Linked DNA regions of Homo sapiens: regions 1 and 2 are each linked to region 3. Evidence: fine-mapped expression QTL. A gene starts in region 3. Each other region holds a variant in brackets. All regions are shown on one strand. Distances are between the middles of the regions. Region 1 overlaps SLC38A12 (solute carrier family 38 member 12). Region 2 overlaps MYO15B (myosin XVB). Region 3 holds the start of GRIN2C (glutamate ionotropic receptor NMDA type subunit 2C).

What was found. PIP is the estimated chance that this variant, and not a neighbour inherited with it, causes the effect.
Region 1: its variant is fine-mapped to the expression of GRIN2C in sigmoid colon (GTEx, PIP above 0.99). The same link has a PIP of 0.9 or more in esophagus muscle and tibial nerve.
Region 2: its variant is fine-mapped to the expression of GRIN2C in esophagus muscle (GTEx, PIP 0.96).

What each region holds. Positions count from the first base shown.
Region 1 is chr17:74,808,498-74,816,756 of GRCh38, reverse strand. All of the region lies in intron 8 of SLC38A12 (solute carrier family 38 member 12), which reads right to left. Among named protein-coding and RNA genes, the nearest start is that of SLC38A12, 36 kb to the right of the region's middle. RefSeq lists an enhancer at 3,844-4,559. The variant G/C (reference allele first, on the strand shown) is at 4,779.
Region 2 is chr17:75,596,110-75,604,109 of GRCh38, reverse strand. It overlaps MYO15B (myosin XVB), which reads right to left. Exons shown (of 64, transcript NM_001395058.1): 13 at 7,555-7,650; 14 at 7,211-7,342; 15 at 2,547-2,672; 16 at 1,516-1,593; 17 at 1,165-1,280; 18 at 1,033-1,078; 19 at 798-922. Among named protein-coding and RNA genes, the nearest start is that of MYO15B, 12 kb to the right of the region's middle. The variant G/C (reference allele first, on the strand shown) is at 3,762.
Region 3 is chr17:74,855,862-74,864,104 of GRCh38, reverse strand. GRIN2C (glutamate ionotropic receptor NMDA type subunit 2C) reads left to right here and starts at 4,220. Exons shown (of 13, transcript NM_000835.6): 1 at 4,220-4,361. It overlaps FDXR (ferredoxin reductase), which reads left to right. Exons shown (of 12, transcript NM_024417.5): 10 at 38-209; 11 at 859-1,029; 12 at 1,158-1,608. The coding sequence ends at 1,288. RefSeq lists an enhancer at 2,695-3,393.

The DNA.
Region 1 (8,259 bases), 47 kb after region 3:
TTGTAGCCCAACTCATTACAGGAGGCAGAGACACGAGTCGCTGCAGCCAAGCACATTTCTAAAAAAAAACAAAAAAAAACGAAAAAAGAAAACTCTGATTTCTAATAACATCTTCAAACTGGTCATGGGGAATAAAGTCCGGGACGGACCCAGGAGAGTACAAATGGGTCTGTTCAGATCCTCTTTCTTTTTGGGTCAGTGAGTTTAGATAACACCAGGGGCCCCACAGCAGCCTTGCTGAAGTCTTGATGGAGACAAGGAGGCTAACATTCCCAGGGCACTGCAGGCAATGCTCAGCCACAGCTCTTTTAGAACGTTCTGCAGTCTACAGCTCAACAGGGCTGCCTGTCCTCCTGTGTCCCTTACATGCGCTGCCCACCTCCAGTTGCCCAGGCTCCAGACTTCCAGCAATCTCTGACTCTTTCCTTGCTCTCTACATGAGGTTCCTGGGGCTGCTATCACAGATGACCACAAACTGGGGGGCTTCAAACCACAGATGTGTGTTCTCTCCCAGGCCAGAAGTGCCCTCTTGCAAGGCAAGGCTCCCAATAGCACCCCCAACAGGACAGAGCCCAGTCCTACGCATGCATTAAGGATGGGGCTGACAGGGAGGAGCCGTTTCTCTAGATGCCACCAGAAATGAGATTTAAGCACAGTAGGGAGTAAAGAGAGTGCCTAATCTCAAGCCCAGCCTTCTGTCCTCTGGACAGGAAGGAAATCTACTCTTCAGAATCAGTGACTCGAAGATGTGGGGAAGGGACCCTGCAGCCTCACGGGGGCCTGTTGTGGGCTGTGCCTGGAGATTTCCTGGACAGGACGTGGCTTTGCTGAGGACCCGGAAGTACTGACACTTGTGCCTGTTTGAGCAGCCTGGCATCTGGGTACCAAGGGCTCAGTCACTAACTGGAGCCTCCACTTTCCTCTTGGAGTGGTTTGGAACAGACTGAAGAGTCAGCTGCCCAGCCATGGAATGGGAGAAACAAATGCTGTGCTACTTCCGAGAATGGATCTTTAAACCAAGAACGCTCAACTCACGCCTGCTGAGGCTGTGCCGTGTCCACCACCTGCCTCCCTCCTCTCCAGTTCTAACCCTACAGCACATGGCACTTACAGAAGAAAGGCTCCGACTCTGCGTGCTTCTGTGTCATATGCAAAAGGAGCCCAGGACTGGCAATGTGTTATGTCCTTTAACCGCACCACGGAGCGTGTGAGTGAGGGCGTCAACATTAGAGCACAAAAGTAAAGCGGGTAGATACTTATCTCCCCATCCCCAAATTTCTCTGCACATTTAGCTGGTCAGAGAAACAAAATGAAATTTTAAACTTGGTGCCAATCTCAAATTAAATACCCTGTTTAACACCTTGTACAGTCTCCGGGTCCCACCCTCTGCCTGCAGATCTGTCACAGCCAATCCCAAGGCCGCATTGTCCCAGCCACTGGTCCTTTGATCCGCCCTGCCCTGTGCTATCAAAACTGCCCTGTGATAACATCACTGCCCAAGCTGCAGCCCCTCCACACTCTGCCAAGCGCTAACACACATGGTTTCATTTCATGCTCATGGCCCGCTGCAAGGTCACTGGTGCAGGTGACGATGCCCTCATCTTACTGATGAGGAAACTGGGGGGCTGGAGAGGTTCAGTGACACAGCCAGAAAGCGGCAGAGGGAGAAGGTCCCCCTCTCTGACACCCCGTCCTCAAATTTTCAACCTCATGCCTTCACCCTCCTGCTGGCAAAGAATCTTCCCCTGTGACCTTCTGAGCCCTGCTCAAGTGCCAATCTCCTCTACAAGTTATTTTAATCCTCCCTGGGGGCTCTTGACTGAATTACCAACACACAGTTGATACCACCTGACTTCATTCCAGTAGGCTCTGAACCGCTGCTTTCTCTTGGGTTGATTTTGTGTCCCCAGCAGAGTGTAACCCCCTTGAGGGCAAGGACTGCATCCTTGTTTGTCGCAGCACCTAGGAAGGCTCTCAAACGTGGGATGCTCACAAAAGCTTTGTAGGATGCACTGCATTTGGTGGGGGGAGTGCCTGCTAGAGTGGGTGAAGGGGCAGCCCCAGTCTTGCCAACCTGCCTTGTACACGTTTTCCATGCCTCCTGCGGGGGGCAGTGCCTGACTTGGCAAAGCCAGCAGCATGTGGGCAAGAGTCACCTGCTCTGCCTAAAAACAGCACATAGTCAGGGAATAACTCTTCCCAACGCAGCTGAGGAATTGACATGTTATGATTTTAGGAAACACACATCAAATCAAAACAGCATGGCTCTGAGTTTACCCACTGGCTTCAGGGAGAATGATATTCCTCCCTCCATGAAGAAGAGAGTGCACCCGGGAAGAGCCTGGGGTGCCCGACTCCCCACTATCACCAGCATCTCCAAGATCCCCACAGGAAGGGGGCCTGGGGTGCCCGGCTCCCCACCATCATCGGCATCTCCAAGATCCCCACAGGAAGGGGGCCTGGGGTGCCTGGCTCCCCAGCATCTCCAAGATCCCCACAGGAAGGGGGCCTGGGATGCCCGGCTTCCCGCCATCACCAGCATCTCCAAGGTCCCCACAAAGAAGGGGATCAGACTCTGGTGAACTGTGACCACTCTCAGTCTGCTTGGCTCCCAGAGGGGTGGTGTCTTAGAAGACATCTTCACCTAAAGTGAAGAAGCTCAAGGTCTTGAAAGGAGTGATCCTTTTCATCCCTACTTTCTGGAGACAGTGGAGTCAGTGTCCCTAATAGTCACCCACCGCCACCCACCAAAATGCTTACAAGACAAAACTAAAAACCCAAGTGCTGCTGGTCGTCATCCTTCCTCTGGCTGGAAGGAGACGGAGCGGACTGCAGCTTCCAACTGGAACTAAGACTTTGATGAAATTCAACAACACTCATAGTTCCATCTCAGTTCCCTCAAAAAAGGGGAAGGAAGACAGAGGGGCTACTTCCCTGGTAGAAAGGGGAGACAGGAGGCCAGGCATGGTGGCTCACACCTGTAATCCCAGCACTTTGGGAGGCCAAGGCGGGCAGATCACCTGAGGTCAGGAGTTCAAGACTAGCCTGGCCAACATGGCAAAACCCCGTCTCTACTAAAAATACAAAAATTAGCCAGGCGTGGTGGCGGGTGCCTGTAATCCCAGCTACTGAGGAGGCTGAGGCAGGAGAACGGCTTGAACCCGGGAGGCAGAGGTTGTAGTGAGGTTGTGGTAAGCTGAGATTGCGCCATTGCATTCCAGCCTGGGTGACAGAGCGAGACCCTGTCTCAAAAAAACAAAACAAAACAAAACAAAAAACCCACAAGAAAGGGGAGACAGGAGAATGAGGGGCTGAAGTGAGGGCTGCAACAAAGGACAAGTCCTAAGAACTTTCTGTGCAACTCCACGCCAAAACTAACCCATGGGACAAAGAGTGACACACAATTACCCTTTGCACCAAGTGACAGAGAAAACACTTGGAAGGGCAGCTGTCAGCTGACTGGTGATGCCCAGGGGAGGGTCCCTCCCAGCCCTGCCTCCTGACTGAGACTTGAAAAGCGGGCAATGTCCCATGGAGACAAATGCCAGTGGCCAAAGCGGCCAGCAGTGACCAGGGAAGCACGCAGGCGACGCTTTTGTTCTCATCCTGGAGTGGCAAGAAGGCTTGGAACTGAAGTGGGGCGGGGCAGGGGAGTGACACTGTGACCCGCTGGCTCCCATGAACACTACTGAGGCAGTGGACTGGTTGGTTACTATGTGGGCAGTTCTCTAAGTGTGTGCTTATTTCTTTCCCTCTAAAAATATGAAGCTTTTTTGGTTTTGGCTTCCACGCTGTAGTGAGATGGAGTTTCTAGAGCCAAGAATTCAGGCACCAGCAGCCTTCTCTTCACTCCAGCTGTCAGCTCCCGGAGTTTCAACACGGGAGGCCAGCAGGTCCACTCTGAGCCTTCTCACTCCAGGGCTGGGGGCTGATGGGGATTTCTCTGTTAAGGTAGCAGGGGTGACAGAGGCACTTCTCGTACAGCAGCAAGCCTTGAAAGGTTGAATAGGGCTACCTTAAACGCACAGAGACCTGTGGGAGCTGACCACGGAGCACTCGGGCTTGGAGTGAGGAGGGCGCAGGGGGGCTCATCTGGGTGGAGGCGGAGCGCACAAATCGCACAGCCGAGCTCCCTGATCCTGGAGGTTATTTCAAGCGATAAAAGAAAGGATCCCCCAGACTCCAGGGCTGCTCTTGGTGGGCACAAGGGGTTAAGAGTTAATTGGGGTTAATGGCAACTCAGCATGAGCCCGTCCCTAAATGGGAAGTGAACTTTCAACACGTCCTTGAAGTGTAGTGAAGAAACGTTCAAGGATTCTATTTTTATTTCTCAAGTGGCTGTGAACGTTTTGGTTTGGAAGTTTTTATTTTCTCAACTTGAATTACAGTATCTGGGGATTCACCCACACGAAGGTGAGTTCTGAGGCAGTGTGGGTCAGCTGAAGGACCACAGGCTTCAGGGTCACGTGGCTAGGGCAGGATTTGCATCCTGATGTCCCTTCTAACTGCGAGAGCTTTCAAGTTCCTGAACCCCTCAAAGCATGCTGCGTGTGCACAGAAGACACTCAACAGACATGAGCGTGGCTTCCTGACCCCCTGTGTCAGCACACACCAAGTCATCACTCCTGTCCAAACATCTCGGTGGGGGAACGCAGCACTCCTGAAGCCAAGCAAGGAGCTCCAACCAAAGAATGTTAAGTCAATGCTATTTTTTTTTTTTTGAGGCACTGTCACCCAGGCTGGAGTGCAGTGGTGCGATCATAGCTCACTGCAGCCCC[G/C]AACTCCTAGGCTCAAGCGATCTGCCCGCCTAAGCCTCCTGAGTAGCTACGACTACAAATGCATGCCACCACATTCTGCTAATTAATTATTATTATTATTATTTTTTTTGCAGAGATGGGGGTCTCACTATATTGTCCAGGCTGGTCTCAAACTCCTGGCCTCAAGTGATCCTCCTGCCTTGGCCTCCCAAAGTGCTAGGATTACAGGCGTGAGCCACCATGCCTAGCCCCAATACTATTCTTTTCTTTTTTCTTTTTTTGAGATAGTCTCACTCTGCTGCCCAGGCTAAAGTGCAGTGGTGTGATCTTGGCTCGCGGCAACCTCCACCTCCCAGGCTCAAGTGATTGTCCTGCCTCAGCCTCCCAGGTAGCTGGGGCTACAGGCATATGCCACCACGCTTTGCTAATTTTTGTATTTTTAGTAGAGATGAGATTTCACCATGTTGGCCAGGCTGGTCATGAACTCCTGACCTCAAGTGATCTGCCTGCCTTGGCCTCCCAAAATGCTGGAATTACAGGCCTGAGCCACCATGCCTGGCCAGCCTGGCCCCCAGTACTATTCTACTATTCTTATTTGACTTCCATGAGGTCCACCCAAGTTCAACTATGGTCCAAATGCATTTTTTTGTTTGTTTTTTTTTGGTTTCTTCAGACAAGGTCTCGCTCTGTTGCCCAGGCTGGAGTGCAGTAGTGTGATCATGATTCACTGCAGCCTTGACCTCCCAGGCTCAAGCAATCCTCCCACCTCAGCCTCTTGAATAGCTGAGACTACAGGCGTGTGCCACCACGCCTCGCTAATTTTTGTATTTTTTGTAGAGACAGGGTCTTACCATATTGCCCAGGCTGGTTTCAAACTCCTGAGCTCAAGCAATCTGCCTTCCTTGGCCTCCCAAAGTGCTAGGATTCCAGGCGTAAGCCACGGTGCCCAGCCCCAGTACTATTCTTATTTGACTTCCATGACCTCCACTCAAGTTCAACTACAGTACAAATGCTCTTTAAGACAGTCCAAGTTCTTCCCGACCAAACACAAAGGATCATTCACCATGCGGAAGACGTCTGCCAGAGAAAGAGAGCAGGAGCCGTGTCAGAAACCATGCCGGCAGCCTGTGTGCACCAAATCCCATGAACCACTGTCACAGCTTATTTGCCAAAACTCTGTGATGAGAGGCACCATGCCATCTAGAGGAGGTCGTCCGAATTCTGCGGATGATTGCACTTTCACAAGGAACTATATAAGGATGAGCTTCCTAAAATGTTCTCGACAGGGCAGAGGGTGAGCAGCGCCCCTCCTGAAGACCAGCCCAGGAATGGGCTGACCCAGAGACTGGGAGGGGATGGGATTTGTGCCAGGACAGGCTGTCGGGTTCTAGACACCAACGCAAGCATGACAGACAGTGCCAATCTTGCCCCCACCAATTCTCAAATACTGTGTACCTGGTGCAGAGTGAGAGATGAGGACAGGCGGAGGCTGGCTGCCTCCCTCAGTGCACGTCCCTCTCTGCAGCAGTGATTAGTGTTAGCCCAACACCTGCCATAACGCACTTTTTGAACAAGTTAGCATGGCCCTTTGTCCTTGGCTCCCCCTGATCTTCCCAAACCCCTCAACTAGAAGGTCCTTGGGAGATGCCTACTGAATAGACTCCAAGTTTGAAAGATTCACATGATGACCGAAGACAGAACTGACGGTTGATGCCTAGATGACTCTAAAGAAGTGGGTGCCCCCTGTGCATTAGAGGCCAGCTCTATGCACCTTGTCACTAGGTCACCATTATCTTCAGTAAAAAACCATGGCTGCTCACGCCAAGCTGGCAGCCTCGTTCTGAATGCGTGAGTGGAGAGACGGAAGATCTACAGCTCTTCTCAAAGACGGGAGGACACTGAGCCTCCAGGCAGAGGCAATCATGAGCCAAAAGTGAAGGTCCCAGCAGCGTGTTCCAAAGCGGCCACCAAGCTAGAAAGCAGAGGAAAGAAACCAAATCCTCGCAGCAGGAGCTCAGCAACCAGGGGCTGGTCGGGAGGAAAGACCCGTCCCTTCGCCCAGCTAGCGGAGATAAAGATGAACTCTGGGCACATTCTCGGTACAGGTACAGACTGGCCAACAGTGGGGCACCTGCGCTACCTCTGCTCAGATACTTGTGAAAATGTTATTCGACTCTGATGCTGGGGAACCTGGAAGAATGATTTCAGGGAGAAAGAAACCAGGGGAAAGGTGGATGGATGCTCTCTTTTATGCAACGTTGCCCCCTTGGACCTGGGGGGCCAGGGCTCTCAAGCAGCCCTGGTCCACCGCCTGCCTGAGCTATTGCAGGTCCAGAACACCACCTCCCAGGATGCGATGTTAGCCTGTGGCTGGGAAAGAGGCGGCATGAAGGGGCTGCGTGAGAGCTTCCCGCACAGAACCGAAGCAGCACCCGCTCCAGGAGTCTGGCCATCCCATGGCAGCTGTGACGCAGGCTGCATGGGACGAGAGCTGCCTGGACTCCCCTGTGCGGGCTCCGAGAAAGACAGGGAGAGCTGGACAGCACGGGAGGGACAGTCCAGAGCCACTGTGGCACCGCTCACGACTCCTGAGGAGCCTGGGGGAGGCTGCTCTGAGGCTCAGCCCTGTCAGTGAGGAGACAACCAGAGGCGTCTGGAAGGCAGTTCTTGGGTTTGCTGTTACTCCCCAAACACTGGCTGAAGGACCGTCTTTGAATGTTTGACAGCCGAAAACCTCCCCAGGTCCCTTCCTCAAACCTCTGCTTCCCCCTTTTCAAGGCAAGTGGAAACAGAGCCAAGAAAAACCCATATACTTCCTTTTCTGAACCACCTCCTCTGAATACCCCGTACCCCTACGTAAATGACATGCTCAATTTCTTAGTTAGGGACCTGAGGTTTGTAACCTATCTTTACCGGAGCTCTGGGAGGCAACAAAATGAGCATCTTCTCCCTAACCCCTTGATGGTGAAAAAGGAACGTCAGAAACTTCCTATCAGGCAGAGTGCGGCTCATAGGAGCCCGTGCGTGGGAGGCATGTGGGGGAAGGTGCCACCTGGGAGGGAACCTAATGCCATGACCCACTGGGGGCTCCTGCAGCACCGGATGCGCAGCCTGGCTTTGACCTGCCAGAAAACTGTCCATGCACTGTGGCCGCTGCAGGAGGGAGCCTGTGTCTGCCCAGAACACACGCTGTGGCCCCCAGGCAGCAAACTCCACCCACCTTTGGAACCAGGATGAGTCCACACACCTGGTAATACCCCGCCTGTTGTCTCCAAGCTTCTAGCTGGGAGCTGGTATTAAGCTCACACTGAGGGGATGCTGGTGGCAAGAGCTCAGCCCCTGAACATGACACCCTTCTCTACCTGGAGCCCTTCCCAAGCTCTCCAAGCTTCCCGAGACACCTGAGACTGATGTCTGTCATTCCAGAGAAGGCTCTGCCCCGGGGCAGGGAAGACGAGGCTCAGAACCAGCAAGTGGACTGGCACTGCCAGGCACTACCAGA
Region 2 (8,000 bases), 740 kb before region 3:
CCCATCCCTACTGCCTGCCTTTTGCTCAGTCCCCCAACCAGGCCATCCCCATTGCCAAGGCCATCACAGGCTAAGGAGGTCCACAGAGCCCTGGGGTGAGGCTGCTGCTCCTAGTAGCTGCCCCCTCCCTTCTGAGGCAGCCACCAGCCCAGCTCAGCTGGACATCAACGAGAAGTGACTCCACCTGCTCCCTCTGTCCCTGTGCTTGGGGTAAACTCCAGCCCTTCAGAGGATTCCCAAGATGCCATCCAGTCAATAGCCAAAGGCCAGATAGGCAAACAACAAAACGGACAATGCCACCAGCTTTTCTTGGAGGTTTCTGAACTCTGGGAACAGAGCTGCCTCTGGGGTTCCTGGCAGCTCCATGTGCCACCCCGCCCCTCCCCGCCCCTCCTGCCCTTCTGAGAGGCTCTTTTCTCACTCCGTCCCCCCTGCCATCTCACTGCTTCAGCCTGCACTCCCTGGACAGCTGCTGTGGGCACTAGACCGTGAGCCCCGCCTAGGGCAGGTACTGCTCCCACCTCATCTCTGGTGCCCAGGCATCAGCACAGGAGAGGTTTGCAGAGAGGAGAAGAAATGACGAATGCGTGGAGGGATGGTGAATGGTAGAAGAGAGTGAGATGGAGAGAGAAAGAGAGAGAGAGAGAGGATGAGAGGACGAGGAGAGAGAGGGAGGGTTGGGTGCTAGGCCCAGTCCTGGGCAGAGTGAGTCCATCTCCAATCAGAAGGACCCCCGGGGCTGCCAGTCACTCCCGGTGGCCTCCTTGTCAGTCCTGCCCCGAGGTGCTGGGCCCCACCTGGCCAGGAAGGCCTCAAAGGGCACACGCACGGGGAAGTTGGCACTGCGGGTGCCCACGGCCTCCAGTATGGCTGCCTGGTGCAGTTGCTCTGTCACATGTCCCACGTCAAAGAGGCCTGGAAGCTGTGGCCACAAGACAGAGCCAAAGACAGCTGGAGTCAAGGGGCCTAGAGCTGTGGGGAGGGAGGTGCAGGGAGGGGGAGGGCCCTGAGGCCAGTTGCTGGGGAGCTCACCTTTCCAGGGTTAGGGGTGAGGCACTGGATGAAATAGACATGGCTCCTGATGAGGGAAAGAGGGGTCACTCGGGCACAGACTGGAGCCCCATACAACTCCCTGGGGTCTGGTGTGGCGGGCGCTGTTCTTACCTGCCCAGCCGGGCTATGAGGTCCTCCAGGGCCTGCTGGAAGCGAGAGGCCAGCGTGGGTCTGCCTCGCCCTCCCCTGGACTGGGGCTCTGCCTCCTGGAACAGGCTGCCCACCAGCTGTGGGGGTGAAGGGCTGAGTCAGCTGGCCGCTGGGGCGTGCCCATCCACCCTGCAGCCCGGGAGAGCCAGAATGGACCAGCCCTCGGCATCCAGACCCTGGCAAGCTCAGCCCATGGCCCAAGGTGCCAGGGACTTGAGGGCCAACCCTTGGGCAAGAGCGCCCAGGGGGAAAAGGACAGAATTGGGGGACAGAGTATGGAGCGGGTGGGGGCCTGGAAGGGCAGATGGGCACCTGGAGCTGGCTCTGGCCAAGCATCTCCACCACAGCAGGGTCCAGCTGATCCCGGTTTCTGTTTAAAAACTTGTGAACCTGCAAGAGACCATGCAGGTGGGGAGGGAAGTGGAGAAAGGGAGGAGAACAGGAACCAAGGAGGGGAGGCTGGATATGGAGGAGAAGAATCTACCCTCTCCCCAGGTGACCTGAAAGGCTGCCTTGGTGTTTCCAGCCCTTTACCTAGCCTTGGGTCTGCCACTGGACTTTCCATTCCACCCCATGGACAGGTCCAGTCCCCAGCAAGACCACACTCTCCCCACTGGGGCTTTAACCTATGCTAGTCAATAGGTTGACTAGACAAGAATGTTGTCTGTCTCTCCATATTAAATCTATTTTGATTTACATTTTCCTAGCTTTCTTGAACTCCTTGTATTTCTTTTTTGGGGGCAACTCCTGGGTAGTTTGTAGTTTTTCTTCTCCAAGCAAAGTGTGCCATCTCCTCCAGGGAGAACTGATTCTCCCTACTGCCCTTCCCTTTATTCCAGCCCCCGCTCCCCCACCCCCAGTTCCTCTCCTCCTGGGGTAGGCACGCGTGCAGCTTCTTGGTAGGCATAGAACTCGGAAGGGGGAAGGGAAGTCCATTCAGTGAGCACCTACTATGTGCCAGGCACCTGCCAGGCCATCTCCACGTTACTACATCTCACCCTCACAGCAACGCCAGAGCTTAGGTCTCCATACCCATTTTACAGGTGAGGAAACGGAGGCTCAGAAGGCGAAGTAAACTGCCAAGGTCATCAGGTCCCATGCTTGTGCTCTGCCCACTTGTCTGGAGGGTCCCAAGGCTTCCACTCCCTGACCCCATAATTGTCACCTAGAACTCAGTAAACCGTGCTCAGAACTGGGCAGGGCCCATGGCTCAGGTAGGGACAGGTGTCCAAGCCTTGCAAGGGGCCTCCCCACACCCACTCCTCTCCGCTGTCGGGTGACTCAGCTTGGGAGGGGACACTGCCCTCGCTGATTCACCCTGGTCTGTCCCTGAGGCCAGGTACCTGGTAGGTGACAGTCCCTGCATAATGTCGCACGGTGAACACGGGCAGGGGCAGCCGGGGCTTGGCATAGCTGGGGTGGTCACCATGGTGATAGTGGCTCTTCTGGAGGAAGGTGTGGTCCGTGGCCTAGGAGAGGAGCCATGAGCTCCCTTCACGCCTCTGCACAGGCTGTCCTTCTGGATGGCGCCCTCTCCCGGTGAGCACGAGTACTGCCTACACTGACTATAAGGGTAGGTTTGGCTTTGTTCCCCAAAACAAGCGCTTTGGGAGGCCGAGGTGGTCGGATCGTTTGAGGATAGGAGTTCGAGATCAGCCTGGGCAACCTAGTGAGATCCCATCTCTACAAAAAATTTAAAAATTGGGCTGGGCGCGGTGGCTCACGCATGTAATCTCAGCACTTTGGGAGGCCGAGACAGGCAGATCACAAGGTCAGGAGTTCGAGACCAGCCTGGCCAACATAGTGAAATCCCAACTCTACTAAAAATACAAAAAATTAGCTGGGCGTGGTGGCAGGTGCCTGTAATCTCAGCTACTCAGGAGGCTGAGGCAGGAGAATCACTTGAACCCAGGAGGCGGAGGTTGCAGTGAGCCACGATGGCACCATTGCACTACAGCCTGGGTGACAGTGCGAGACTCCATCTCAAAAAAAAAAAAAAAAATTAAAAATTAGCTGGGTGGGGCTAGGCGCAGTGGCTCATGCCTGTAACCGCAGCGCTTTGAGGCCAAGGCAGGTGGATCACCTGAGGTCAGGAGTTCAAGACCAGCCTGGCCAACATAGTGAAACCCTGTCTCTACTAAAAATACAAAAAAATTAGCTGGGCATGGTGACTCATGCCTGTAATCCCAGCTACTCAGGAAGCTGAAGCAGGAGAATCATTTGAACCTGGGAGGTGGAGGTTGCAGTGAGCCGAGACCGCACCATTGCACTCCAGCCTGGGCAACAAGAACCAAACTCCGTCTCAAAAAAAAAAAAAAAGAAAAGAAAAAAGTAACATTAGCTGGGTGGAAGGACTGATTGAGACTGGGAGCTTGAGGCTGCAGTAAGCTATGATGGTGTCACTGCACTCCAGCCTGCGTGAGAGAGTGAGACCCCATTTCTAAAATAAGTAAGTACTTAAACAAAAAAAAAAAAAGAAATGGGGATGGGGCACTTTAGTACAGATTTAGCAATCATTCCTGGGAGAATGGTCCCACAATCACATGTGCTTTTAAACA[G/C]GTCTTTCAAAGATCACTCTTAGGCCGGACGCGGTGGCTCACGCCTGTAATCCCAGCACTTTGGGAGGCCGAAGCAGGTGGATCACGAGGTCAGGAGATCGAGACCATCCTGGCTAACATGGTGAAACCCCGTCTTTACTAAAAAATACAAAAAATTAGCCGGGCATGGTGGCGGGCACCTGCGGTCCCAGCTACTCGGGAGGCTGAGGCAGGAGAATGGCGTGAACCCGAGAGGCGGAGTTTGCAGCAGTGAGCTGAGATCACGCCACTGCACTCCAGCCTGGGCGACAGAGCAAGGCTCTGTCTCAAAAAAAAAAAAGAAAAAAGAAAAAAAAAGAAATAGAGATGAGGAGCTTTAGTACAGATTTAGCAACCATTCCTGGGAGAATAGTCCCAGAATCACATGCGCTTGTATTTATTTATTTCATTATTATTATTATTATTATTATTATTTTGAGACGAGTCTTGCTCTGTCACCCAGGCTGGAGTGCAGTGGCACGATCTCGGCTCACTGCAACCTCCACCTCCCGGGTTCATGCCATTCTCCTGCCTCAGCCTCCCGAGTAGCTGGGACTACAGGCACCCGCCACCACGCTCGACTCATTTTTTGTATTTTTAGTAGAGACAGGGTTTACACTGTGGTCTCGATCTCCTGACCTCGTGATCTGCCCGCCTCAGCCTCCCAAAGTTCTGGGATTACAGAGATGAGCCACCGCGCCCGGCCTACATGTGCTTTTAACCAAGTCTTTCAAAGATCACTTTCAGGCCAGGTGCGGTGGCTTGTGCCTGTAATCCCAGCACTTTGGGAGGCTGAGGTGGGTGGCTCACAAGATCAGGAGATCAACCATCCTGGCTAACATGGTGAAACCCCGTCTCTACTAAAAATACAAAAAAAAAGAAAAAAAAATTAGCCAAGCATGGTGGCGGGTGCCTGTAGTCCCAGCTACTTGGAAGGCTGAGGCAGTAGAATGGCGTCAACCCGCGAGGCGGAGCTTGCAGTGGGCCAAGATCACGCCACTGCACTCCAACCTGGGCAACAGCGAGACTCTGTCTCAAAAAAAAAAAAAAATCACTTTCAAAAAGTAACTCAGTTGGGAATGATAGTAGGAGTCAGTTAAAACACACATACACAAACACACACAGTAACTCAAGGACAGGTGCAGTAGCTCACACCTGTAATCCCAGCACTTTGAGAGGCAACGGTGGGAGGATTGCTTGAGCCCAGGAGGTTGAGACCAGCCTGGGCAACATAGGGAGACCCCATCTCTATTTTTTAAAATATAAAAATAAAACTAAAAAGTAATTTAGTTGGACGTTATTTTACTGAGCTAATGAACATAAAATAGCAAGTGCATGGGGGAACTTGCCTATATTATGTAAATGAGAACTTGGGTTTGGGGTAACAATTCCAGGCTCAGCACCCACCTCGGACTCAGAAAATGGTACATGTCACATAACATAGACCTAAGTGATATTGCTGAGCCCTGGAAATCCATGCTGGGGGATTCCAAAAGTGATCTTGGGACCTCAAAGACACTCGTGACAAGTTTTAACAAAACATTATGAAATGTGAACTGGGAGAAACAATCGTTTAGAAATTAACACTCTCTTAATTATCTAGTACAAGACTTTACATACGTATAAGTATTAATAAATGAACATTATATATCATATATTAATGTGACTTGTTATATATCAATATATAGTACATGAAGACATGTATTGCATTAATATGACAGTGATCAACGAACTATTACAATAACATTTGATGATTTTACCATTGTTTTTCACCTTTCATTTTCTTTTTTTTTTTTTTTTTTTGAGATGGAGTCTCGCTCTGTCGCCCAGGCTCACGCCATTCTCCTGCCTCAGCCTCCCCAGTAGCTGGGACTACAGGCGCCCACTATCACGCCCGGCTAATTTTTTGTATTTTTAGTAGAGACCGGGTTTCACCATGTTAGCCAGGATGGTCTCGATCTGCTGACCTCGAGATCTGTCCACCTTGGCCTCCCAAAGTGCTGGGATTACAGGCGTGAGCCACCGCGCCTGGCCCATTTTCTTTTCTTTTCTTTTCTTTTTTTTGAGACGGAGTCTTGCTCTGTCCCCAGGCTGGAGTGTAGTGGCACGATCTCGGCTCACTGCAACCTCCGCCTCCTGGGTTCAAGCGATTCTCCTGCCTCAGCCTCCCATGCCTGGCTCACCTTTCATTCTCAACCACTAATTGGGAAAATGGGGGAGGGTTGCCCCATATTCAGGATCACGTTATATTGAGCTTCCACAGAAACTCCTGCTCCACATTCCAGCCTCAGCTCCTAGAGGCTCATGACGCCCCCCAACTCTCCCTGCCCCACACGCCCACCCACGGAGCCGCACAGGGGTGATTTTGTATTTGGCTCTGCGTTTTTGGTTTGTTTTTTTATAATTAATTAGTTTGAAACAACTTCTCACTCTGTCACCCAGGCTGGAGTGCAGTGGCATGATCATGGCTCACTGCATCCTTGACGTCCTGGGCTCAAGCAATCCATCCACCTCAGCCTCCCAAGTAGCTCTAACTATAGGCTCACACCACCACACCAGGCTAATTGTTGTATTTTCTGTAGAGACAGGGTTTTTTCATGTTGGTCTCGAGCTCCTGGGCTCAAGGGATCCACCCACCTTGGCCTCCCAAAGTTCTGGGATTACAGGCGTGAGCCACTGAGCTTGGCCAAGGCCTGTTTTTTTAAATGAACATTTCTCTCCTGCTGCACTGCGGGCTGTAAGAGGGGAGAGACTGGGTCTAATTTTGTTCACCTTTTATCCTTAGCACAGTTCCTGGCACAGTTATTCATTCATTCATTATTTCCTTAACACGTGCTGCAGATAGAGCTCAAACCCTTCACACGGGCACCCGCCCTTGTGGAGCCCAGTCTGGCGCGGTAAGGAGTCAGTGAATGAATAGACGCTGTGACTGCATGTGGACGCGCGCTGAAACGGGAAACAGGGACGAGGCTGCTATTTAAGTCTGAGCAGGCAGGAGGCAGTCAGAAAGCATTTGTGGAATGGGGGACATGGTACCCTGGGGTTTGTCCCCGACCAGTCAGAGGCCTCAGTGGCCACCTAGCCACAATTGTGAGGGACCTGCAGAAGCCCTTCATGAGCCTCGTGCAGTCCCCGCCACCTTGCCCATCGGGCACTACTGTCCCCCTTCTGTGGCAGGTACGTGAGGAACCTCAGAGGCCAGATGTCATGCTCAAGATCACCCCGAGACAAGATGTGAACCCAGCTCTGCGGGAGCCCAGGGTTCTTCCCCTTCGCTGCTGCTGTCCCAGGCTGTGCTGAGGAACTGTGATCAGGGTCGCTGGATCCCATAACCTTGTCCCCTCTGGGAGGCTCTGCCAGCTACAGCCTGGACACCCAGGGCCTCCACTCCTTCCCGACACTGGGTGGGGGGTCACCATCCTGGCCCTTACCTGGGACAGCCATGTCTGGGCGTCCAGGATACTCAGGAGGCTGTGGGGCTGATCTACCAGGAGGTCTAGGCAGGACTCCCTCGGAGGCTGAGGGACAGGCACCCAGGACAGCAACTCCCGCCGACACTCCTCCTGGGAACAGCCGGCATTTGGCCATTTTGCAGGAGCAGGGATAACCCTCCCATCTTATAGAATAGTACATTGAGGCTCAGAAGACTGAGACACCTCATGGAAAGGGGCCTTCCAGGCAGAGCTCTCAGTTCCCAACTTTCCTTCACCAAGGATGGCCTCTGCCTGGGCAATGCCTGAGCGGCCCCTGCCACGTCCACGCCCAATCCTCTTACCTCCTCCTGGGCCAGCAGCATCTGGCTGGAGAAGAGCTGTAGGCGCTCGCTGGCGAGGTTGTTGCACAGTTGCTCCAGGCCATTCACCCGCAGGGCCTGGGGGCATGTGGCAGTGAGGTGGGCACATGGGGCTGTGCCCTCCCCCCACCCCAGAGGCTTCCTTCATTCTGGCCAGGGCGCAGGGATGAGTAATACCCAGGGCTGATGCTGTGTAGCCAACAGGGTCAAGTCTAAAGGATCCGGCACAGCACACGGGCTACCTCAGCCCTGCCCAGCCACAGGTCCCTCTAGCTGCCCACACCCCTGCCCTCTGCTGCAGCACTCCTGCGAGCCTTTGGGCCTCTTGTCACGGCCATCCTGTGGCTTGGAAGGCGACTTTCCCTACTAAATAGCAGGTTGGCTATCAGAGTCCCGCATCCTCATGCACAGGGCTCCAGGCTGCTGCC
Region 3 (8,243 bases):
GCCACCCGCCTGGTGTTGCCCACACTCTCCCCAACAGGGTGTCGATGAGGCCACCCGTGCAGTGCCCACGGGAGACATGGAAGACCTCCCTTGTGGGCTGGTGCTCAGCAGCATTGGGTATAAGAGCCGCCCTGTCGACCCAAGCGTGCCCTTTGACTCCAAGCTTGGGGTCATCCCCAATGTGGAGGGCCGGGTTATGGATGTGCCAGGTGAGAGGGTGTGAGGAGGCTGGGTGCTGAATTATGGTGAGAGGCCGAGAAGCTGGTATCTCCTGGGGCCATGCGTTCATTCATCTAGCAACATGTACTGAGAAGCTTCTGCAGGGCAGGCCCTCTCTAGGACCCAGTGCCGCCCTCCTCTTGGCCCTGAGAGAAGTTCCAGTCTGGCTAGGACATATGTGACATACGTCGGGTCATTAAGTCATTCAACAAACGTTTACTGAGGTCTTTTCTGGGTTAGGCCCTGTGCTTAGTGCTGGGATTGGAGATTAATAAGGCAGCCTGTGTCCTCAGGGAGCTTCCAGTTTTACTAAGTGCCCACATACCTATCTAGTGATTAATTCACTTGGTAAACATTTACCAAGGGCCTACTGAAACTGCAGGGGAGCAAGCCTCAGCTCCTAAGCTTAGGGATCCCCTCATCTACAGGGAAACTGAGGTGTAAGGGGGTCGGCCTGGTAAAAACAGGGAGAGAAGAATCCAGGGCAGTGGACCAGCGGCCACAGCAGGCTCAGCCGACAGTCTGCCAAGAGGCGTGGGGTGTCTGTGTGCGTGCACGTGGGTGTAGATTGTGGGCACAGGATGGCCAGGGTGGTATCCAGCCACCTCCCTCCCTTCCCCTTTTGTTACCCCCTCTCAGGCCTCTACTGCAGCGGCTGGGTGAAGAGAGGACCTACAGGTGTCATAGCCACAACCATGACTGACAGCTTCCTCACCGGCCAGATGCTGCTGCAGGACCTGAAGGCTGGGTTGCTCCCCTCTGGCCCCAGGCCTGGCTACGCAGCCATCCAGGCCCTGCTCAGCAGCCGAGGTCTGGGCCCCGATGCTGAGGTCCTGGGAGGTGGGGTGGGTGGTCCTTCTCTGGGCCTCACTCTTTGGGAGGGGGCTGTTCTGGGAGGGGTGAAGGAGGAGGTGTTGACAATCTCCCCTCTGCTTCAGGGGTCCGGCCAGTCTCTTTCTCAGACTGGGAGAAGCTGGATGCCGAGGAGGTGGCCCGGGGCCAGGGCACGGGGAAGCCCAGGGAGAAGCTGGTGGATCCTCAGGAGATGCTGCGCCTCCTGGGCCACTGAGCCCAGCCCCAGCCCCGGCCCCCAGCAGGGAAGGGATGAGTGTTGGGAGGGGAAGGGCTGGGTCCGTCTGAGTGGGACTTTGCACCTCTGCTGATCCCGGCCGGCCCTGGCTTGGAGGCTTGGCTGCTCTTCCAGCGTCTCTCCTCCCTCCTGGGGAAGGTCGCCCTTGCGCGCAAGGTTTTAGCTTTCAGCAACTGAGGTAACCTTAGGGACAGGTGGAGGTGTGGGCCGATCTAACCCCTTACCCATCTCTCTACTGCTGGACTGTGGAGGGTCACCAGGTTGGGAACATGCTGGAAATAAAACAGCTGCAACCAAGAGCCATGGTTGATGGGGGACTTTTTTTGGAAGGGTTGGGGTCGGGGGTCACCTTCTGGCCGTAGCTCCCCTACCATCACCAGGTGGCGCTGCAGAGACGGCTCCCTGCTCAGGGGCCTCATTGGGGGCTTGATGGGGCTCGGCAGCCAGGCCTGGCATAGCCACCCTTCCTTTCTCCGCTCGGCCCTGCTGTGGCTGCGGGTTGCCTGTCTTCTGTCCACACTAGGGCTGCCCGGGACCGGGACCGGGACCACCCCTCCCTGGGGAGCCCTCAGTACAATCAAAACAGAAAAGAAATGGGAGCGGGGGACTGAGAAGCAGCTTGTCCCCTGTACCTCTGGGTGCCCCAGGCGAGTCTAGCCTGGGGCCCATTCTTTGGCTCTCAAAGCCTTCCTGCTTCCGTTTCCAGTCAGACACACTGGCCTTTAAAAATAGTGCCTCAGTCTCCCTAGGGCTTTGCAGTGTCCAGAGAGTGGTCACTCCCTTTTATGGCAGCCCTCAAGATGCTGCCTCGCTGTATAACCTGAGGGGTCCTCGAAATTGGCCCAAGGTCACACACTCGTGAGCTGCGGGCTCAAACCCAGGCTCCGGGCAGGCTGGTGTGTCCTCCGAGGCGCACTTGCCCCGAGTGTCAGGTCTGGGGACGCGGTTCCGGAGAGGGGAGAGGGGCCCGGGAATGCGGCGGGAGGGGCCTCGAGGGGCAGCGGGCCGGGCCGGGCCGGGGCGGAGGTGGCGGGCCCCGGCGGGGCGGGCCCTCGCGGGCGGCGGTGAGAGCTCCCGCACAGTCGGCTGCGAGCTCTGGGAGCAGGAGGCGCGGTGCGCAGCCCAGCCCGGGACGGAGCCGGGCGCCGTGCGAGCTTCGGGAGGGTCGCGGGGCGCAGGGGCGGGTCGGGGCCAGCGGACCAGGCCGCGCCACCCGCCCCCGCCCCCGCCCCGCCGCGCCCGGGCTCCGGCGCCCGCGGAGCTGAGACTGAGCGCGCCAGCCCTCCGGGGCCGAGGCTCTGGGACAGACACCGCGAGGGAGGCGGCCGGCGCGGGCTCTCGTCGCGGGCGCAGCGCCCCTTCCCCTCGGTAAGTGGCGAGCGGCGGGCGAGGGGCACCAACTTCGCCGCCAACTTGGGGCTGGGTTCCCGCGGCGCGCGAGCAAGGACGGCGGAGACAGAGGCGGGACACCCGGGGGGTTGGACCCACGCAGGACTCTCGGGGCTCAAGGAGGGGGCGGCTGGAGGACCCGGACCCTCAAGAACCTGGCCTTGGGTTTTGACCCGGGCGGCCGGAGAGAAGGCGAAGAAGAGGCCGAGCAGACAGGCGCGCGGCGGACGCGAGAGAAGGACGCGGGCGAAGCGTCCAAGACGTTCGTCCCCAGGGTCGCCGAGCCCTCCTCCTCCTTCGCTTGGCGCGGCAGCACCGCGGGACCAGGGGAGTCTGGGCTGCCGCGGACCCAAACTGTTGCTGCTGGAAGCCGCCGGGGCGGAGAGCGGGGAACAGGGCCGGGAGTGGGGGCCGGGGCTGGGATCCACCAGAGCGAGGGGTTGGAAAGGAGTCGAGAAGGTGAAAGGGGGCTGTGCGGCTCCCCAGCCCAGTGCCCCAGTTTCCCTAGGTCTGCTGGGCACCTGCTGCGCACTCGCCTCGGCGCCCAGACCCCTTCCCCCGCCGCGAGTCCCGCTTCTTCCCCTTCCAGCTCTGCCCCATCTCCTTTGCCCCAGCCTAGCTCTCTCCTTCCTGCGACCTGGGAGAATCGGAGTGGGCTTCCAGAGTAGTGGCATCTTGCAGATGCTGGCCCGTGCCCGGCTCCCGGGCTTCCAGAGCGCAAAGGGAAGGGTAGGCAGAGAGGGCACTGGGCGAGCAAGACCTGGCGCTGGGCCCTGGCTGCGCACCAGCCGCCTGCGCCGGTCTCTGGGGGCTTCGCCCAGGATCCCCGACGGCGGGGAGGGGAAGCCCCGAGTCTCCTGTTTCCTGCCTACGCGGGCAGGGCGGGGACACGCGGAGCAAAGGCACCCGGCAACCTGAACCCCCAGGTGCGTCCCGCGACCCTGCAAGGAGCTGCTGGGTGAGCAAGACGGGAATTCCCGCCAGGCCCTGATGCCCACCCCATTCGTCCACTCGGTTTCCCAGCCCTGGTCGTCCAAGGGGACTTCTGGCTCGGTCCCCCAGCCCTCGGATGGTGGCGTTATCTTAGTTCAGTCCCTGACCCCGGGCCACAGGAAAATCGAGGAAAGACACTTATTTGGGGAGGGTACCATTCCGCTGGCTGTATTTCAGAGCCCGTCCAGGTCTTGGCGGTGCTAGTGACTTTGAGCCTGTTTCTAAACTCCCGAAGAATAAGAGCGTGCCAGGGGCAGGTAGGCAGGTCCGGGACACCTGGGTTCGCCCAGGGCCCCCGGGCGGGCCTGGGATGGTACTGGGGCCGCCTGCCAGGCTGGCTTGGTCCCCCCACTGCGGGACTCGGGGTCACGACCCAGCTTGGGGGAGTGGGGGTGGGGGCCCCGGAGCCGCGGACGCCGGCGGGGGGCAGCGTGGGGCGGGGGGCGCCGGGTGCGTGGTGCTCAGCTTGGCCGCCAGGAGGCGTGGCGCGGGTCCCCGCCCGGAGCCGCCGCCGCCGCCGCCGCCGCCGCATCGCGAGTGTCCTTGAGCCGCGGGTGACGGTGGCTCTCGCTGCTCGCGCCCCCTCCTCCCGCGGGGGGAGCCTGATGCCACGTTCCCTATGAATTATTTATCGCCGGCCTAAAAATACCCCGAACTTCACAGCCCGAGTGTAAGAGATTGCTGCGGAGGGGAGGGGGCGGGGCGTCCCGGTGGCCAGGGGGAGTCCGGGCGGGGTCCGCGGAGACGGGGGCCGTAGCCTTGGAGGAGCAAGAACTCCGTGCCCCCAGCAGTGGGGCAAGCTAGAACGGCGGTCCTCTCCCCTGGCGCCTGGGTTCGGGTTTTGGCTGGGCAAAAGGGAGGGAGGGAAACCCGACGGCAAAGGAGGGGCGGCTCACCGGAAGGGCAGGGGGTCCGGGGGTTCTGCTGGTGGGTGGGGAGGACTCCTGCGACAGAGTTTCCTAGCCTGGGAGAGGGAGAGCCATCGGTATCTCAGATGTGAGCGGGTATGAGTGCGGGAGTGTGCATGTGTGTGCAGGTCCGTGCCAGGGGGTCTGGCTGAGCTGTGAGGACCCGGGAAGGAGAAGGCCCCCAGCCTGGGAAGGTGCTCAGACCCTTCTAGATGCTGCTGTGTCCTGCAGGACTGACCACTGCCATCCTCTCTGGGGCTCTTTGGGGATCTCTGTGTTTGTCAAACATTAGTTTAAGGGCTGTTTGTGGAAGGGGTGAGACCCTGAGTGGGTGGGTGGGCAGAGGTCTCTGAGACAATGTGTCTGCCCTCAAGGAGCCCGCAGTCCAGTGTGGGGCAGGGTGTTAATGAGTGCACACACACCTGCCGCAGGGCAGAATGGAGGGGTGGAGGGGACCACTACACAGAGCTCCCCACCCAGGAGGGGAAGCCAGGGCAGGGGGAAGAAGGGCAGGTGCCCCAGCCTGGCCGCAGTCCCTGCGCCTAGAGCCTGAGGCATCAAGGCAGGTGCCTGTGGGAGAGGGATTTCAGCTGGGCCCTGAAGGAGAGTAGACTTCTGTTGGGATGAGGACATTCCAGCCTGGGGGATGCTGGAACGAGGCCTGGAGATGAGGGCAGAATGGGGCTGTTTGGCCAGCAGACTGGCAGAGCTGTGGGTTCCAGGGATGGGAGGACGGTTGGTTGCGGTCAGGGTGCAGAGGGCTCTGTCTATGGGACTAAGCTGTCTGGACTTCATTTGTGGGCACCAGGGTGTAGCTGTCCTGTGTGAGGAGGGAGCAGTGGCTGGAGGAAGGCTTCAGCAGTGCAGTGGGGCTGGCGGGGGTGGGTAGGTGGGAGGTGGGGAGGGGGAGGCAAGGGAGGAGATTGTGGCGGGGGAAAGTGGAGTTTGTCCCTCCTACCTCTGTAGGGTGGCTGGGTTAGACGGGGTGATGAGACAGAATTCGGAAGCTCCTTGAGTCTGCCCCTTGCTATTTGGAGCCCAGGGACTTACCTAGTTTTGGCCCCTGGCTCTGGAGGTATTCTGGGATCCCTCCCCCATTTTAGGCCCCTTGATTAGAGGTACAACCTGCCTCAACTCCCCCACCCCCCGACCCCCAACCCCCAACCCAGCAGGACACCTTCCCTTTGGAGAGAGTCTCTGGTGTCCCCAGCCCATGAGGATGTCTTCCTATTGGAGAGAGTGGGAATGAGAACATTTTCAGCTATTACCAGACCCTTATTCCTTCATGTGAATGAGCTCTAGGTCCTTGGCTAAGAAAAGGTCTTGACTGGGGAGGGTGGAAGCTTGAGGGGAGTAGGGAGTTGGAAAGAGAAATACATTTAGAAAAAGGAGGTTGGAGATGCTAATGGCAGACTGCTTATTCTGCCCCTTTGCAGTTGAGGGAGAGCCTGGGCCCTTCATCCAGGGTCACACTGTCCAAAGAAATAAAATGGGAGCCACAAGTACAATTTAAAATTTTCTAGTAACCACATTAAAACAAATAGAAACAGGTGACGTTAATTTTAATAGTATATTTTCTTTGACTAAACATACCCCAAATGTTATTATTTCAACATGTAATCAAGATACAAGTGTTTACGAGATTTTTTACATTCTTTTTCCCTGTTGTCTTCAATGTGCAGTGTGGCATGAAATTTTACACTGATAGCAAACTCCGTTTGGGTGAGAGATGTTTCTGGTACCCAATAGTCGTGTATGACTGGCGGCTCCTATACTGGGCAGCACAGATCTAGAGCTCATTACTGGGAGGCAGGGGTAGTAGGAGGTTTGGGGCTCCCCAGAGGGCAAGGAACCTCTAGGACCTGGAGGTGTGGGCAGAGGTGAGCAGACAGAGGCCGTGCAAGGGGAGCGACAAGCATGTCAGTGTCCTTTGTGGTTGAGATCTGACATCCCTGATTGGTGGTGGCAGCTGAGGCATGGCATGGCATGGCTAGGATCGATCCCTTGCCAGACTCAAACATGTCTCTGGGCTGTCAGTTCTGTCACTTCTGTCACTTCTGTGTCACTGTACTAGGGAACCGTACACATGGGAAGATTTCAAGGGCGCCACCATGAGAGCAATATTCCCTTCCTTGCCAAAACTCTTGTCTTCTTGGCCTGAAATTCTACCACCTGGCACTTTAGCTTAAGGCTCTGATTGTGGTTAAACTACATCTCTCTTGGGAATGAGAACCCTTTCAGCTATGATCAGTCCCTCATACCTTCCTGTGAATGAGCTCTAGATGCTTAGCTAAGAGAAGATCTTGACGGGGAGGCTGGGGAGTTTGAGGGAAGTAGGGAGAGAAGGTTGGAAAGAGAAATATATTTAGAAAAAAGGAGGTTGGAGGTGCTAACAGCAGCATGCTCATTCTGCAGATTTGACTCTAAGTTCCTGGAGGGCAGGGACCATGTCTCACCCATAGGGACATTCCACCATCCAGCGCCTGCTGCAGGGAAGGGGCTCAGCACACACGGGCCAATTGATGTTTCTACACTAAAGTTGGTTTAGTGGGTTCCCTGGAGGGATCCTTTCAGTGCCACCCTGGGGAGAAGAGGAACTTTCCTGAATGTTCCTGGTAGCCTCTTGCACTTCCCCGCTCTCTGGATTCCTTAGAGAGAACTAGAGATACAAGAAGGCCCATATGTCTGTAAGACATTAGGCTTTGGATTAAAAAAAAAGAGAGAGATAGCTGGGTGTGGTGGCTGACGCCTGTAATCCCAGCACTTTGGGAGGCCGAGGTGGGCAGATCATGAGGTCAGGAGATCGAGACCATCCTGGCTAACACGGTGAAACCCTATCTGTACTAAAAAATACAAAAAATTAGCCGGGCATGGTGGTGGGCGCCTGTAGTCCCAGCTACTTGGGAGGCCGAGGCAGGAGGATGGCATGAACCCGGGAGGTGGAGCTTGCAGTGAGCCGAGATCGCACCACTGCACTCCAGTCTGGGTGACAGAGCAAGACTCTGTCTCAAAAAAAAAAAAAAAGAGAGAGAGAGAAATTTGGTGGCAGGCAAAAGGAAGGCCCTGTGAGAAAGCTGGAGCCTGCCCAGCAGTTGTCTCGGGCCCCATCCCTGAAGGGCATCTGTCTTTCGGAGGCGTGGTTTCTGGCAACTGCTTGATTTTCGTGAGCATTTCTGTAGCAGAGATGTGCAGATCCTGGGGGAGGCGGGAGGGCTGGAGTGGCAGGCTCACCCTGTCCACCCTTTAGCTCTTCCCTGCTCAGAAGTTTTGCTGGGGATGTGATGAAGATGGGAGAGATGGCAGTGCCATGGCCGATGGCCAGCTGGGAGGGAGAGTGACATCCGTGGGCACCACTCCACTCAGGCTTTGTGTTACCCTCACTGCTGTGGCTCTTGGTCCCAATCCAAAATAATGACATTTAGCAAGGATACGTGTCAGGCCCCTGGGTTGGGTTCAAAAGATCCTGCACGCCAGTGATGGCCCGAGAGGCCAGCTCACCAGCTCATGTGTAACAAGACCAAACCCCAGCTCACCAGCTTGGGTTTTCCGGTACCCCTGAGCTCTGAACAAGTCAGTGCTGTTGCACCCTGCTGCGGAAGAGCTGCTACTAGCTGAGGCCACAGAAGGAAGGGCTGTAGTGACGT